Linked DNA regions of Homo sapiens: region 2 is linked to region 1. The links come from fine-mapping of genetic effects on gene expression. Tissue or cell type: ovary. Region 1 holds a variant in brackets; the other region holds the start of a gene. All regions are shown on one strand. Distances are between the middles of the regions.

What was found. PIP is the estimated chance that this variant, and not a neighbour inherited with it, causes the effect.
Region 2: RIC3 starts here. The variant in region 1 is fine-mapped to the expression of RIC3 in ovary (GTEx, PIP above 0.99).

Annotation. Positions count from the first base shown.
Region 1 is chr11:8,305,901-8,314,004 of GRCh38, forward strand. No RefSeq gene overlaps it. Among named protein-coding and RNA genes, the nearest start is that of LMO1, 46 kb to the left of the region's middle. The variant GCA/G (reference allele first, on the strand shown) is at 4,742.
Region 2 is chr11:8,164,715-8,172,818 of GRCh38, forward strand. RIC3 (RIC3 acetylcholine receptor chaperone) reads right to left here and starts at 4,311. Exons shown (of 6, transcript NM_001206671.4): 1 at 4,152-4,311. The coding sequence starts at 4,275. It overlaps RIC3-DT (RIC3 divergent transcript), which reads left to right and starts at 4,356. Exons shown (of 5, transcript NR_187234.1): 1 at 4,356-4,475; 2 at 5,171-5,274.

The DNA of each region.
Region 1 (8,104 bases):
AAAAAACCCAATAAATCCAATTGAATGTAGGAAAGGGGAAGAAACAGAAAAATACATGGTAAAAATTTTAAAAGGTGGTATTAAAAACTCCAATTTTATCAGTAATCACAATAAATTTAAATGACTTAGACCCATTTGTTCGGAGATATTCCCAGATAAGATTTTTAAAATCCAGTTATAAGTTGTTTATAACTGACCTAATAGTTAAAACATAATTATACAAAAAGCTTAAAAGTAGAAGGATAGGGAAAGATCATAAATACTAATAATCAAAGGAAATGAGATATAGTGACATTAATAGCAACCAGAAGAGATGTCATGGTTTTAAAAAACTTGAGATTTAAAGAGGGTGACTGTTCACTGACAAGAAGAACAATTGAATAGAAATCTATAGTGAAGCTGAACCTGATTGCTCATAATACTATAACCTCCTTAAAGATGACAGGATTATCAGGGAAAATTGACAGAGGATATTAAGCAAAATACATAGCAAAATTGACAGACTTGTGGGAGAAACTGACAAACCTACATTTGTAATGAGAAATTTTAACACTCCTTTTCCAGAAATTGATGAAACAGATAAAATTATTAACATTTGTTTGATGTCCATATATAAAATCTTGTTTCCAATAATTAAAGAGTACACTTCGTTTTCAAGTGGAACATTTAAAAACTTGCCAGGCGCGGTGGCTCATGCCTGTAATCCCAGCACTTTGGGAGGCTGAGGTGGGCGGATCACCTGAGGTCGGGAGTTTGAGACCAGCCTGGGCAACATGGAGAAGCCTGGTCTCTATTAAAAATACAAAATTAGTTGAGAATGGTGGTGCATGCCTCTAATCCCAGCTACTCCGGAGGCTGAGGCAGGAGAATCGCTTGAACCCAGGAGGTGGAGGTTGCAGTGAGCCGAGATGGCGCCACTGCACTCCAGCCTGGGCAACAAGAGCAAGACTCTGTCTAAAAAAAAAAAAAAAAATTAGATGGCCATGGTGGCAGGGGCCTGTAATCCTAGTTACTTGGGAGGCTGAGGCAGGAGAATCTCTCGAACACGGGAGACAGAGGTTGCAATGAGCCAAGATCGTGCCACTGTACTCCAGTCTGGGCGACAGAGTGAGACTCCATCTCAAAATAAATAGATAAATAAATAAATAAAAACTGACTATATAATAGGACACAAAGGAAGCGTTAACAGATAATAAAAATTTGATATATTAGTGACAGATTCTATGACTTCAGTGCAATAAAGTTATAAAACAATTTAAAAAATTGGGTCCAAAGCACCTCACTTATTTTCTTTATTGTAGTGAACTATATAATATGTATAAAAGAATATGTTAATACACAGAATTTAAAGAAATATACCGTAAACATCTATGTAACTGTCACCCAGATTAAAAAACAGTACATTTTGGCCGGGCGCAGTGGCTCACGCCTGTAATCCCAGCACTTTGGGAGGCTGAGATGGGTGGGTCACGAGGTCAGGAGATCGAGACTATCCTGGCTAACACAGTGAAACCCCGTCTATACTAAAAATACAAAAAAAAAAAAAAATTAGCCAGGTGTGGTGGCGGGTGCCTGTAGTCCCAGCTACTCGGGAGGCTGAGGCAGGAGAATGGCGTGAACCCAGGAGGTGGAGCTTGCAGTGAGCCGAGATCATGCCACCGCACCTCCAGCCTGGGTGACAGAGCGAGGCACTGTCTCAACAACAACAACAACAAAACTCAGTACATTTCCAGGATCTCAGAAACCTTATGTATACCCCTTTCCAGCTGTATTCTCTTCCTGTTCCCTAGGAAGAGGTATCCACCACTCTGACTCTTAGGGCAGAGGTCCCCAACCCCTAGGCCATGGTCCAGTACCAGTCTGTGGTCTGTTAGGAACCAGGCCGCACGGCAGGAGGTGAGCGGTGGGCCAGTGAGCATTACTGCCAGTGAGCTCTGCCTCCTGTCAGATCAGCGCGGCATTAGAGTCTCACGGGATCTCGAACCCTATTGTGGACTGTGCATGTGAGGGATCTAGGTTGCAAACTTCTATGAGAATCTAATCATCCCTCGCCCTATCTTTAGGGTACTCATTTTTGTGCTTTGTTCTTACTGTTTTACCACTTGTGTATGTGTTCCTAAACAGTGTTGATGAGTTTTGACTGTTTTTCATCTTTATGTTAATGGAATCGTATTTTCTATCCTCTGCCTGGTGTCTGGTCATGTGCTGGGTACAGAGAATATAGAGTTGAATTAGACAGGAGTCCTCCCATCAAAATGATCATATTTGGTTGCAGAAATGGTAATTGCCACAGTAGGAATTAAGCTGTGGAGTAGGGGTATCACATCACAATCATGTTGTTGAAAAAGAGACTTCTTAAAGGAGTTGAGAGTTGAAATGAATTTTAAAATGATTTGACTTATTTTCCAATAAGACAAGGGAGATGAGAATTGCCATCAGTGTGAACATCAACTGTAGATCAATTCAGCCTTGTCTTAGTCAAGATTTCAAACTAGCTTAGACCAAAAAAAAAAAAAGTTAAAAAAGATTTACATAAGTGAACAGTCCATGTGATATGACTTCAGGCAAGACTGGATCCAGAAGCTTAATTAATTGCCAGCTTTAATCTCTTTTTTTTTTAATTTTAGAAAATAGAGATGGGGGTCTCAGCATGTTGCCCAGGCTGGTCTTGAACTCCTGGGCTCAAGCGATCCTCCTGCCTTGGCCACCCAAAGTGCTGGGATTACAGGTGTGAGCCACTGTGCCTGGCCTCTATCTCTTTCTATATCTATCAGATAGACTTTCTCTACACAGTGAATCAGATGGTCCTCAAAAACCTCAGACTCACTTCCTGTTGGCTTACCATTACAAGTAAGTGGTGCTCTCTTTTGTAAGTTCAAGCCAAAATTCCCAGAGAAGATTCTAACAGGTCCTGTTTGGGCCATGTCCACATTCCTACATTAATCATTGTCCCTAGAAGAATAAGGTGTTCTTGTTGTTCTAGATCACAGACTAGATCACCTGCCCATCTTATCCAAACCACATAGAACTGGCTCCTCACATGAGAGAAGGATTCTGTTCCCAGAAGTGAGAAAAAATCCTAAGAAGGCAAAGGCAACTGGAGTCCACCTGCAGTATGAGAGGTCACTTAGCATTTGAGAAACCACAGGCTCTTTGGTGTGACTGGGGAGTGGGCTGAAGGGGGACATGATCAGAAAAGAAGTAGGCTGGGGAGGTGACAGAGATGCAGAATGCGTGGACAACCAAGTTTTATTTTATGCTGAACATAACAGAGGCTTTACAGTGATTGGAGAGATTGAAGCAGAGGGTGACAAATTCAAATGCTCATTTTAGGAGGCTCCCTCTGGGGCCTGCAGGAGAGAGGGCTGGAGTGCTAAGACTGTTACAATAATCCTGGTGAGGAGGCTGAAATGAGATAGCAGGAAGGGAAGCCTTGTGGGGCAGGGATCAGGGCATGATCAGGTAGGAAACTAAGAAAGAAGTCGACACCATAGATGGGGGTAATGAAGGACGGGATGATGAAGGGAGAAGAGTCAAGCGACAGTCACGTTTCACATCTGAGTTTCAGGTGAGGATGTGCATCACCAAGACGAGGAGCCTGAGTCTGATGGGCCTATTCTGTGGTGGCTGTGGCTTTGCTCTCTCCCCAGCTTCTAGCCTCGTGTTAGAAACGCTTGAGGTTCTTGGTAAACCCTTATGGGTAGACTAACCGGGAATTGAATTGAAATGCAGATTCTAAGTGTGGCTTATGCTTCAAGCTGCAGGTCTCCTTGAGGACCCATTGCCAAGGCCTCGACAGCCCCATTGAAGAGGGCTGGGACTGAGCCTGTGTGTGTGTGTCTGTCTATGTGTCTGTTCCTATCTCTTTGTTTGAATGGGATGATTTTTCGCATACACCCCCTGACCTCCCTATCCTTGACAGCCAGGTTCCCAAGCCCAGGCATCCTACTGGCCAGGACCAGATAGGCTGTTCCTCCCAATACCTACTCTGGCATGGGGGTGTATCCCAAGACATTCTCCTCCTCTAGTTCCTCCCTTCCCACCCCCGCCAAACCTTCCAGAGGAAATCCTGGAAAGACTAGAGTGACAGAATGCATATCCCTACTCTCGCTAGAGACTAGGCTTCAGAGGGACCTGGCCATAGACAGGTGCTGCACCCTGCTGTGTGTCAGGTGCTCTGCAATGCCTTCTCTCCACTCACACTCACAACACTCTACGAGGCTAATAGTAGCACTACCCCCAATTGACAGGTGAGGACCTGAAGCCCAGAGAGGCAAACTGCATTGCCTGAAGCCCCTAATTGGTAATTATGGGATCTAAGTGCAAGTCTAATCAGAAGGTTGTGGGCTTCAGCCTCCCTGGGACTGTTGTCAGGAGGCAGGCAGCTGGAAGTGGTAGGGTCCCAGGCTCTTTAGAGAAGAAGCTGGGCTCCAGAAGGGGTAGACCAGAAGCCCAGCTTTCCTGGACCCACACCAGCCCCTCCCTGTTGGGTCTGGGTTTCTGGGGGCCCACGCAGCTGATGGTGATAGGCCAGAGAGGGTTGGTGGAGATGGGGGGAAGGGCTGGAGGTGTGGGTGGCTGGGGGTGGGTTAATGCTGCTGCCTTATGAAGGACATTTTTCAACTGAGCCGGTAACTGGAGGCCCTGTGAGTGTGTTCTGTCTCAGCAACTCCACAATCAGAGGATATGAACTGGCTGTGAGAAAGACATCAGGGGCTGGCTATTCCCAAACTCTTAGAAG[GCA/G]CAGAGCTAGATTTAATAAAAGGAGAAAATGGAACATTCTCATTAGCACCAGATTTTCCATTTAATTTGGACTTTTACAAAATAAGTAGCCTAATTACTGCCATGATTTGAGCTTCTCAATAGGTTTTTCCTCTAAGAAGCTGCAGACGCCACACAAGCCCCATTCTCCAGGGCTCGCCCTTGTGCCACAGACCCTCACCGCCCCTGCTTCTCTGGAAGCAGAAAGGCTTCTGAGGCCTGAGCGGGGAGGCAGGGCAAGGCACGGGAGGAGCGCAGGTGTGCTGGCTCAGCTGACCTCTCAGGGCCCTCCCTGCCCCTCCTGGGCCCCCAGCTCTCAGCAGCCAGTGGGGAAGATGCTATTCCGGAGCCTGCACGCCTCAGCACTGGCCTAGCCTGTGTCTGAGCCCTGGCCCGAGTCTTGCCTGAGTCTCAGCACAGGGCCTAGGAGGTTGCTGAACTAAGGTGAGGTGCCAGTACCTTCACCCCAGGGCTCTGTTCTTGGCCTATAGAAATGACTGTAGCCCTGCAGTGTCAGCACACAAACCATTTACACCGACCTCCCAGCACTAGAGAGGCTGAAGAGCAGGACTGACGCAGCCCCAGCCTGGGGCTCCAGCTCCCTTCTGGACCCTCAAGGGCACTTGCTGTCCCCATTAGGATGAAACCTGGGTGCCTCAGGCTGGAGTGACCTCCTTCATCTCTTTTCATACCTCCCCCATATCCCCCACATCCCCCTCCCTATTCTCCACCTCGGCCTTTGGCTTTTTCCTCTTCCTTCTGCGCTTGAAGAGAATCCGGGATTAAAGAAACGGAGCAAGAAATTGCCAAGAACTAGCCTCGCAGACAATCAGATAGAGGGATGGAGGGCAGGGGCCCTTCCCCCAAGAGGAGCCTGGGCCGTCCAGCCTGATGGGGCCTGGGAGACACGGGGTGTGCTGGCGGGCAGGGGCCATGTCCCGGGTGTGCACAGTGCTGGAAACATCCTCCTCAGCCATGACCTAAACCCAAGTCCTCTTTTGTCCCAGAGAATCAGTCCCAGCAAAGGTCTCACTGCTGGGCCCTTGTCCTAGGTACACTCTTCTACCCCATCCGTCCCCTGCCAAGGAAAGCAAACCCCTCTCTGGCCCCTCTCCAAACCAAGCCCTGCTGGCCCAACACCCCCAAGGGCTCCAGGCCCTGCCGCAGCCTCAGTCCCCTAGTTTTTCCCCCACTTCTCCAAGGAAGAAAGAGGTAACCCCAAGCCCCTTATGGAAGAGTAGTTGGAGGGATGTGAGGAGGCACCAAGAGAGATGTTATTACTAGGATTTTGGTAAAATAAGGTGAGATGTTTTCCTGGGGAGCTGTGAGGTCCCTCTGACCTGGAGGAGGCTCTTATTATATCGGCAATTTCTTGAGCCAGCCCCTTCGCAGGGGTCAAGGAGGACACAGAGGAGAGTCAGGTGCAGTCTCTGTTCTCATGGAGGGCTCAGGTTAGTGGGAAAGAAGTAGGTGATGTTCTCCCCATTTGTAGATGAAGACCAGAGCCTCAGAGATGTTGGGTGACATGCCCAAAGTCATCCAGCTGGGAAGTAGGAGAGCTGGGATTCATTCGTACTTCAGGGCAGGGCCTATGTCTATTTGCTTTTCATCACCGTAATGTCCAATATACATACAGCAGAGCGTGCGAGTCGATGGCTTGTTATGTATGTGCTCACCCATGGAATCACCACCCAGATCAAGGTCTCGGTCACTTCAAGCATTCCAGAAGGCTCCTTTATGCCCCCTCCAAGTCAGTACACCCCCACAGAGTTCCTCTCTATTCTGCAAATCCTGGCACGTTTTTTGTGGGGTGAGGGGTGACATTTCTTGGCCCAGGTGACTCCCTGCTGATGCTGTAACTCAGCTGTCCTGCAAAGATGGCATGGCCCAGCACCCAGCTGGCACACAACAAGAAACCCTGGCACTCTGGAGGGTGAAGAGAGGTGCTGTGGATAATGCCGGGACCACAAGGGTTAACAGGGGCTGTCCCAGCCTCACCTTCTCAACCCGGCCCTGGTGAGCCAAAGTTTTTGGTGGGAGGTGGCAGGGGCAGTGTGCTCATCTGTGGTAGCACAGACCTGGTCCTCCAGCCTCTTCTAGTGACCTCCCAGTCTCAGGACTCACCCAGGAGAGTGGTGGTAAGGGAGCTAATGCTCTCTGGGGTCTAGAACAGGCTTCCTTTGCCCCTGGTTTCAGGCTGTGCTTTCCTTAAGAGAGGACTTCAGAGGCAGCTAGAGGAGCCTCCATGTCTGCCATCCATAGACAATGGAGACTTAGGAAGCAGCACCCCATACCCCTGTCCAGCCAACTGCCCCAAGAGGCCTTCCCAAGCCTATGGGCCCCAGACCCCTAGCACCACAGCCAAGACCCTCACCTGCTCCACCCCACCCCGCCCCATCTGCATCCACGGGCCAGTGGGGGACCATTCAGTGAGATCCTCCCTGTCCTACGGCCTTGGCCGTGACCCCAGCTTGGCCTCTTTGTCTCTCAGCCAGGCCAGCCAGTTCAGCGTTAAAGCTGCTGGAGCATCCAAGGAGACATAAAGAAAGTTTAGAGACTTTTAATTTGCCAGCACGGCTCTCCGCTGGCCAGCAGGTTGAGCGTTTGTGGAGAAGGGCAGCCGCAATAAAGGCTTATTGTTCCTCTCTGAACCACTGCTCGTGACTCCTTTCTTAAGTGAGACAAAGGGAACCCAAGGCCCACAGGTGTCCCCAGGCCCAGAAAGCGGGGCCCACAATTAGCTAAAGTCCCCCAGGGTCAGGCTCTGGGGGTGGGGGCCCAACTCAGCCCCTGTCTAGGCTGTACTCACAGGAGAGCACAAGCCTGGGACATTGTCGGCAGGGAAATACTCTCCAGTGGGGACCCCAGGGCACCAGGAGACAGGACTCCCACAGGGAGGGGGCCAGAGCCCCCTGCAGAAGCACCACACGGAAGAGCAGCTGCAGGGGAGCCGCGGGGATGGGCCTCGTGGTCAGGGTCCTCCCTGGGTGCAGTGGGGGTGTCCCGGGAAAGGCTTCCAACAGCCAGAGAGGCATCTCTGGAGGGAGAGAGTTCCCCACCACAGGGAGCATGTGAGCTGGGAGGGCACCCAGAGGGAAGGTGGGGCTCCAGCTGAGCAGGTCACTTCCAGTGCCCAAAAGGCCAGACTTAGGAAGCCCAATCAGACCCTCTTGGCTGGGCAGAGAAAAGGCAGAGCACAGGAATGTGGTGACCCCCACAGAGACACCCTGCCACTGAGGCAGCCACTGGGAGCCAGGTAGCCACACCCCTGGGGAGAGGTGGCACCATGTCCCATAGCATGCCTTGCTGGGACCACCCAGAATCACATCCCATAGGCAGCACT
Region 2 (8,104 bases), 140 kb before region 1:
CTACAGTGAGCAATGATGGCACCACTGTATTCCAGCCTGTGCACCAGAGTGAGACCCTGTCTCTCTCAAAAAAAAAAAAAAAAAAAAAAAAAAGACAAGTAATCTGACTTTTAAAGAGGGTTAAAAGGACCTGAATAGACATTTCTCCAAAACAAGATATACAAATAGACAAAGAGTGAATAAACACACAAAAAATGCTCAATGTCATTAGTCATCAGGGAAATGCAAATAAAATCACAATGAGATACCATTTCATTCCTACTAGGATGGCTATCATCAAGAAGACAGATAACAAACAAGTATTGACAAGAAACCAGAAGCCCTCTTACACTGCTGGTGGTCATGTAAAATGGTACAGCTGCTTTGGAAAATGGTCTGGCAGTTCCTCAAAAGGTTAAACATGTAATAACCATACAACCTAGAAATTCCACGCTTAGTTCCAGCCACACTGGAATGCTCACATTTTCCAAATGTATACACTCAAGAGAAATGAAAACATTAAGTCTACACAAAAATTTGTACACAGATATCAGTAGCAACATTATTCATAATAGCTAAAAGGCAAAAATTCAATGTCCATCAATTGATTAATGAATAAATGAAATGTGGTATATCCACACAATGAAATATTATTCAGCCATAAAAAAAGTACTGCTACATGCTACAACATGGATGAACCTTGAAAACATTATGCTAGTTAAAAGACGTCAGTCACAAAAGATCAGATATTATATGATTTCATTTATACCAAATGTCCAGAACAGGCAAATCTATAGAGACATAAAGTAGATGAGTGGTTGCCTAGGGCTGGAGGTGGGCTGGGGGATTTGTGGAGTAATAGCTAAAAAGTACAGGGTTTCTTTGGGGGCTGAAGAAATATTCTAAAATTGGTTGTAGTGATGGTTGTACAACTCTGAATATGCTGAAACCCAATAAATTGTACACTTTAAGTGGGTGAATTGTATGATATATAAATTAGATCTCAAGAAAGCTGTTATCAAAAAAAAAAAAGACTTCCCTCCTCTATGTTCTATGAAACCTGTTTTTTGGGGTTTTTTTTTTGTTTTGTTTTGTTTTTTTTTTTGGCAGAGTCTCACTGTGTTGCCCAGGCTGCAGTGCAGTTACACAATCACACCTCACTGTAGCCTTGACCTCCAAACTTCAAACGATCCTCCCACCTCAGCCTACAGAGTAGCTGGGGCTACAGGTGCACACCACCATGCCCAGCTAATTGAAAAAAAACAAACTTATTTTGTAGAGATGGGGGTCTTGTTATGTGGCCCAAGCTGGTCTCGAACTCCCAGGCTCAAGCAATCCTTCCACCACAGCCTTTCAAAATGCTGGGATTACAGGCATGAGCTGTCACACCTGGTTTATGAAACCCTTCTTAAGTCCCAATAACACTGACCATTGCATACATGTCTCCATTGTTCCCTGCGCAGACTTGAGTAACTGTGACTGACACTCTTGCATTTATCTGCTAACATGTCTGTTTTGCATTTATCTGTTGACATGTCTACTTTCCTTTACTAAACTGTGGCCGCCTCAAAGCATGGAGTTCGCTCATTTTTTCTTGGAATACATAGTGTCTATACACTATGTGCACAGTATGTGATATGGTACATCATAAATATTTGTTAAAAGACTATCTTAAAGGCTTTCATGTGGAAAGGGAACTGTGCTTGTTTCATGCACATCAATGGGCAAAAATGGAAGACATAACAACATGTATTTTTAAGAATTTTCAAATACTCAGGGTTATTCCTTTCTTCAAAGCAGGGATTTCTGGGTTCTGAGAATTCTCTGAATTGATACTGAAATTCTGAGTACAATAAGAGTATGTACCTTTTTCTAGAGAGAACATACAGTTTTAGGCTGAGTGCAGTTGCTCAAGCCTGTAATCCCAGCACTTTGGAAGGCTGAGGCAGAAGGATCACTTGAACCCACGAGTTCGACACCAGCCTGGACAATACAATGAGACCCCCATCTCAACCAAAAACAAAAAAAATTTTTTTTAATTAGCCAGGCATGGTGGCATGTGCCTGTAGTCCCAGTTACTTGGGAGGCTGAGGTGGGAGGATCAGTTGAGCCCTAGAAGTAGAGGCTGCAGTGAGCTGTGATCATGACTCTGCACTCCAGCCTGGGTGACAGAGTGAGACCCAGGGAAAGGGAAAGAGAAAGGGAAAGGGGGCCAGGAAGAGAGGAAAGGAGGGAGGGAGGGACAGAGGGAGGAAGGAGAGAGAAAGAAAGAAAATACATAGCTTTTATAAGATTCTCAATGGTGTATGTAACCCCAAAATGGTTAAGATTTTTTGCTGCAAGTTTCAGTTACTGGAATGTACCATTCAAGGTAAGTTTTTTCCTAGGTTATACTACTTCAGTAGCTTCTCCTTGTCAAAAACAGAATTTACAGTATTGGTAGCTTAATAATCTTAAAGTATTTATTGACTGCCCATTATATGCCAGGTACTGAAGAAACAGTGGTAAACAAGACAAAGTCCCTACCCTTGCAAACTTACATTCTAGAAGGTGAAGACAAAAAAACAAACAAGTAAACACTTAAGAATATTCCATATCATATAGTGATGCCTATCATGAAGAATATAAAACATGATAAAATAGAGAATGATGGGAGAAAAGAGTTATTTTAGTTAGTGTCATCAGGGGAAGTCTCTCTGAGGAGGTTTCATTTGAGCAGAAATTTGAATGATGAGAAGGGCACTGAGGGAAAAGCACAGCACTTCAGGAATAAAGAGAACTGAAGGTACAAAGATCCTAACATGAGAACACTGAATACCAACACTTGAGTTCTCAAGGGAACAACCCATGTCTAATCTCCACTCTACATTTTCTACAACGTTCAGAAGAGTGTCTCCCACTCACAGTCAATAGTACTTGTTCAAGATAATTCACCATAATGGAAAGTAAAAAAAAAAAAAAAAAAGTTTTCGAAGAATCTTCACTGTTCAGGATCATCATGAATTGACTCTTCTTCAAAGTAGACAATATCATTAGACAAAGCAGGTAAAAATCTTTGGGATTATTGCAATAAGACAGAAAGGAAAAAAAAAGAACAAATACGCAAAGATGTTTTAGAAGTCCGTCCCAAGTGGATAGTCTTACAAGCATAAAGATTATCAGGCAAATTCTGTAAACAGAATTATGTGTTCAACCTGCCCTCCACCCCTAAAGCTTGGTGCTTTGCATTTATAGTGTGTATGATGCTCAAGAGAATGGAACTACAGTCAATGTGCATAAAGCAGACGGAAGTGGATTACAGTTCAAAAGGAGCTGTCCAGCAATCAACAGTTTAAACATTACTGGAAGTGTTCAGACACCGTAAAATCATGTCTCAAAGATATTACAAGGATAATTTACAGGAGAAAGTTACCAGTAGAACTTCATGACCTATAGAAAACTGTTCTGGTTCCTTCTCCCAGCCTTCAGCACCGTGCCTTTACACTCATTCTGTAAAAGGCCCCAGTGCAGCTAAGAGGATGAATTTTTAAACACCACATACATCATGCCAACAACGAAGAATTAACAGATAAATACTGTTTCAATAAGGGGAACGTAATAATTTGTTCATAACCACCTCAGTAACTGAAACTGGGGTTATTAAAATCTTCAAGATATATTTTTAAAGGCACAAGAAGAGCCTGAAGCAGTGAGCGCCCAGCACCAAGTTGAAAAAACATAACGACTTAAGGTTTGCTGTACCAATTCCATTTGCCTTGATTTCGTACCAAGCGGCGCGTCAGAAAGTACACGGAAAACCTAAAGAGGGAAACCCAACTGGGAACCCTTGACTCAAAGCACGTGAACAAATGGTGACGAGATGAGTTAAGCCAGCGGGGTAAGAGAGAAGGGACTGCGCCTAAACGGGAGTACGCAAGGCCACCTAGAGGATGCACAGACCTGCATGCATACGTTCCTGACCCTTCCAGCAGCAGAACCATCTGGGCCGCCACCCGCTGATAACAACGGAACCGTGGGCATTGGCCCTTCAACGCCGTCTCGCCCGCCCTCTCCAGTCAGTTTGGTGGATATTTCGGTGAAGGCTGCAGACTCTCAGAGTCACCCCTCCCTCAAGCAGCGTTCTCCGTACTCTTCGGCGCCGGGAAGCTCAGAGGGAGCTGGCCTGCTCTTACCTTCAGGTGTCGGCGGCGGCTCCTGCCGCTTCCCGCGGGACAGGAAGGCCTTGGGCAGCAGCAGCGACAGAGCCAGGACAAGCCCAGAAGCCAGAGCGACTCTCTGCACTGTGGAGTACGCCATGACTGCTCACGGTGGTCGCAGGTGCAGACGCCAGCCGGAACCGGAACCGGAACCGGAGCACGGGCTGCCGCTCCCGACCGAACCGCGGGCGGCGCGGACGGCGTCGCGCGAGGGACAAGGTGCGCGAGGCGCACGCATCTTCACCTCCACTGTCGGGAGTTGACCTGCTCCTCCCGCGTGGTTACCCGTCGCTGTAAATGGTACCCTCGCCTTCCCGTTCATACTAACTAAAAACTCCTCCCTCACTCCCCATGTTCATCTTTTACTGAGTCCTGTGCATTCTACCGCCTACACATCCGGCGGTCGTGCCCGGATCTCTATCCCCACTTACCACCACTGCCCCCCACCCACCCGTAGATCACAACATCCAGTTTCTCCTCATCTCCATGATCTCGCTGTCTTCCAGCTTCCACTCATGCCCCTCGCATTCATTATCCGTCTGCAGCCACAGGTGATAATGCTAAAACACAAGACTAATTCTCTTTCTCTCCAGCTTAAACCTTTTAACTCTCCATTATCTTCAGAACAATAGTTAAACTCCTTTCTATAACCTCAACGCCCTGCATGATCTGGTCTTACCAATGCTCCTTCCAAACTGGATGATTTGCTATTTCTTTAGCATATTGCTTGTCTTCAGGGAAGCTTTGCTTGTCCTGTTCCCACTGCCTGGAAAATTCCTGACACCATCTCCAGTTGTCAAAAACTTCTCTGAAGAACAGCTTAAAAACACTGCTCTCTCGAAACGTTTTCAGTCAGCCTCTCCTTTCTCTACAATCCCACCGTTCTTTGTTACTCTCTTCATTCGTTCATTTAACATTATTTTAGTTTTTACTATGTATTAGACCCTCAACTTGGCACTACAGGGTCTGATGAATAAAATGGATTCCCTTTGTAGGACAGATAATTATCCAAACAAAAAAAATGCAGGAAATATTCTGGATCCCCGAGCAGTCTTCTCAACTGGTACGAGGAAAAGTCAAGAAAAGCCCCTTTGAGAAGGTGAAATTGAGTTAGCTGTTGAAAAATGAGTAACTTATAGGCAGACAGGTGGGAGGGGTTAGAAAGGTATTCCGGAAAAAGGAGGCCAAAAAAATAAAGGCAAATCTGGAAGCTTCCTGGTGTGTTCAGAAAGCTATTGGTAATTCATTTTGGCAGGGCCATAGAGTAGTGACAGGACACGAAGTGCACAAATATAAGCAGGAGCTACATTGTGAAAAGCTTAGGTAGAACTTCCAGTTAAACATGACAGATGTAACATATGCATTTATCTTTGCTTTCCTGGGACAGTGCCCAAAAAGGAAAATAAAGAAATAAAGTATATAAACTACAAGACTAAATGCAATGATAGAAAACATGACAGCAGATGAGAAATGTCAATTTTGTAAGACGCACACAACACTGTCCAATAGACACATAATACCAGCCACATATGTAATTTAAATTTTTCCAGTAGCCACATTTAAAAAGTAAAAATAAGTAAAATTTATTTTAATAATATTTTAAACCAAGATAGCAAAAATATTTCAAATTTTATCAGCACGATAGTGTGGCTCGTTGGCGCCCACAGTAGACAGTGCAGGTGTAGAGCATAAAAAGTTAAATGCCTGTGGACTGAAAGCCTGTAAGGAGTGAACTAATTTGCCCCTCAGAACCCATGCTCTTAAGAATTGGAGGTACTGGGTTCCTTTAAAGCCAAGGGTGCAGAGTGGGTCTGAATGAAGGATTGGCTGGAAATCTGATTAAAAAGCAGTTGAGACTGGGCACAGTGGCTCACACCTATAATCCCAGGGCTTTGGGAGGCCAAGGCTGGAGGATGGCTTGAGGCCAAGAGTTCAAGGCCAGCCTGGGCAACATAGGGAGAGCCCTAATCTCTACCAAAAAAATGTAAAAAATTAACCAGGCATGGTGGTGTGCACCTGTAGTCCCAACTACTCAGGAAGCTGAGGTGGGAAGATCACTTGAGCCCAAGAGTTTGAGGCTGCAGTGAGCTATGATTGTGTGAAACCACAATTAATTATGATATATAAGATGATAATAATGCCTGAATGAAGCCAGTAGGGGCACCCACTCCAGCCAGGGTGACAGAGTGAGACCCTGTCTCTAAAAAAAAATTGTTTGATTTTTTTAAAGCAATGGATATCTTCTGAATCTCTTTCCTTGATTCATGCAGCCAGATGGGTGCCACTGCTGGCTTCACTCGGGCATTATTATCATTGATGTTATTAACATCACTAAAAGTTAGAGTACTAATTATGTTTTAGGCATCTTACATATCATAATTATTCCTCCCAATAACTTCAAGAGGTAAGCAATATTATTATATACCCATTTCACAGGTAAGAAAATGGAGCCCCAGAAAACATAATTTACTTGCCAACAATTACACAGTATAAACTGGATGCTATGATTTGAACACAGGCATGCTTACTCAAGAATTTGCCCTCTTAGCTACCAGGTTTACTGTCTGGGGAGGTTTAGTCAGAAAACCTCTGGACTCCTGGACTATAGATGCAGCTTAGGGAGGAGGTGACTAATGGGATGTGGTCTCTAAGAAATACAGAGGGGTCTGGAATGACCACACTCCCCCCCGCCCTCCGCCACCAAATTCTAGCTTGGGTAAATGGTAGACATTAATTCTATATAACATGATTTTAAGAATAGAAGAATCAGGTTTGTGAGAAAGATGAAGAGTTCAGATTTTGACTAGCTGAATTTGAAGTTCCATGAAATATCCAAGTAGAAATATCCAGTTGGATATATGGGCCTGGAGCTCAGAAGAGATGTTTGGGCTAGAAACAATAGGAAATCATCAGCCCATCTATAGTAAATGAAGTCTAGGAGAAGATGGCATTAGTGAGAGTGCTCATGTGAAGTTGTAAGAAGCCACAATGGAAACCTAGGTCACAACATTATGTTGAAGTTCCCATGTATGAGGACAGAAATGAGGTGGGAAATAGTGATCCAAGTGTTAAAATCTTTAATGAATGTGGAGTTACTACAAGGTTGGAAGGTGACAGGAACAGAAGAAGTAATGGGCAGCCAGATGACATGCTCTTCTAAGGAGCTGTGTTTTTTTTTAATTGTTTAAAAATTTTTATTTATTTATTTATTTATTTATTTATTTTTGAGATGGAGTCTTGCTCTGTTGCCCAGGCTGGAGTGCAGTGGTGCAATCTCGGCTCACTACAAGCTCCGCCTCCTGGCTTCACGCCATTCTCCTGCCTCAGCCTCCCAAGTAGCAGGGACCACAGGTGCCCGCCACCACGCCCGGCTAATTTTTTTGTTGTATTTTTAGTAGAGATGGGGTTTCACTATGTTAGCCAGGATGGTCTCGATCCTTGTTATGCACCCACCTCAGCCTCCCAAAGTGCTGGGATTACAGGCATGAGCCACAGCGCCTGGCCAGGAGCTATGGTTTTTAAAGGAAGAAGAGGAAGAAGCAATTTGGAAGCAGCAAGGGGAAACAAGTTGGGCATCTATTCTATTCCCAGGCTTTAAGCTGTGGGAAGAAAAATAGCTCTTACTTTGGGAGATCTGCAAGGGAAACAGAACCCAGAGGCAACAGCCTAGTTTTCATTAGAGGAAGACAGGCCGGGCGCAGTGGCTTATGTCTGTAATCCCAGCACTTTGGGAGGCCAAGGGGGGCGGATCACGAGGTCAAGAAATCAAGACCATCCTGGCCAACATGCTGAAACCCACCTCTACTAAAAATACAAAAATTAGCTGGGCGTGATGACATGCGCCTGTAATCCCAGCTACTTGGGAGGCTGAGGCAGGAGAATCGCTTGAACCCAGGAGGCAGAGGTCGCAGTGAGCTGAGATCGCGCCA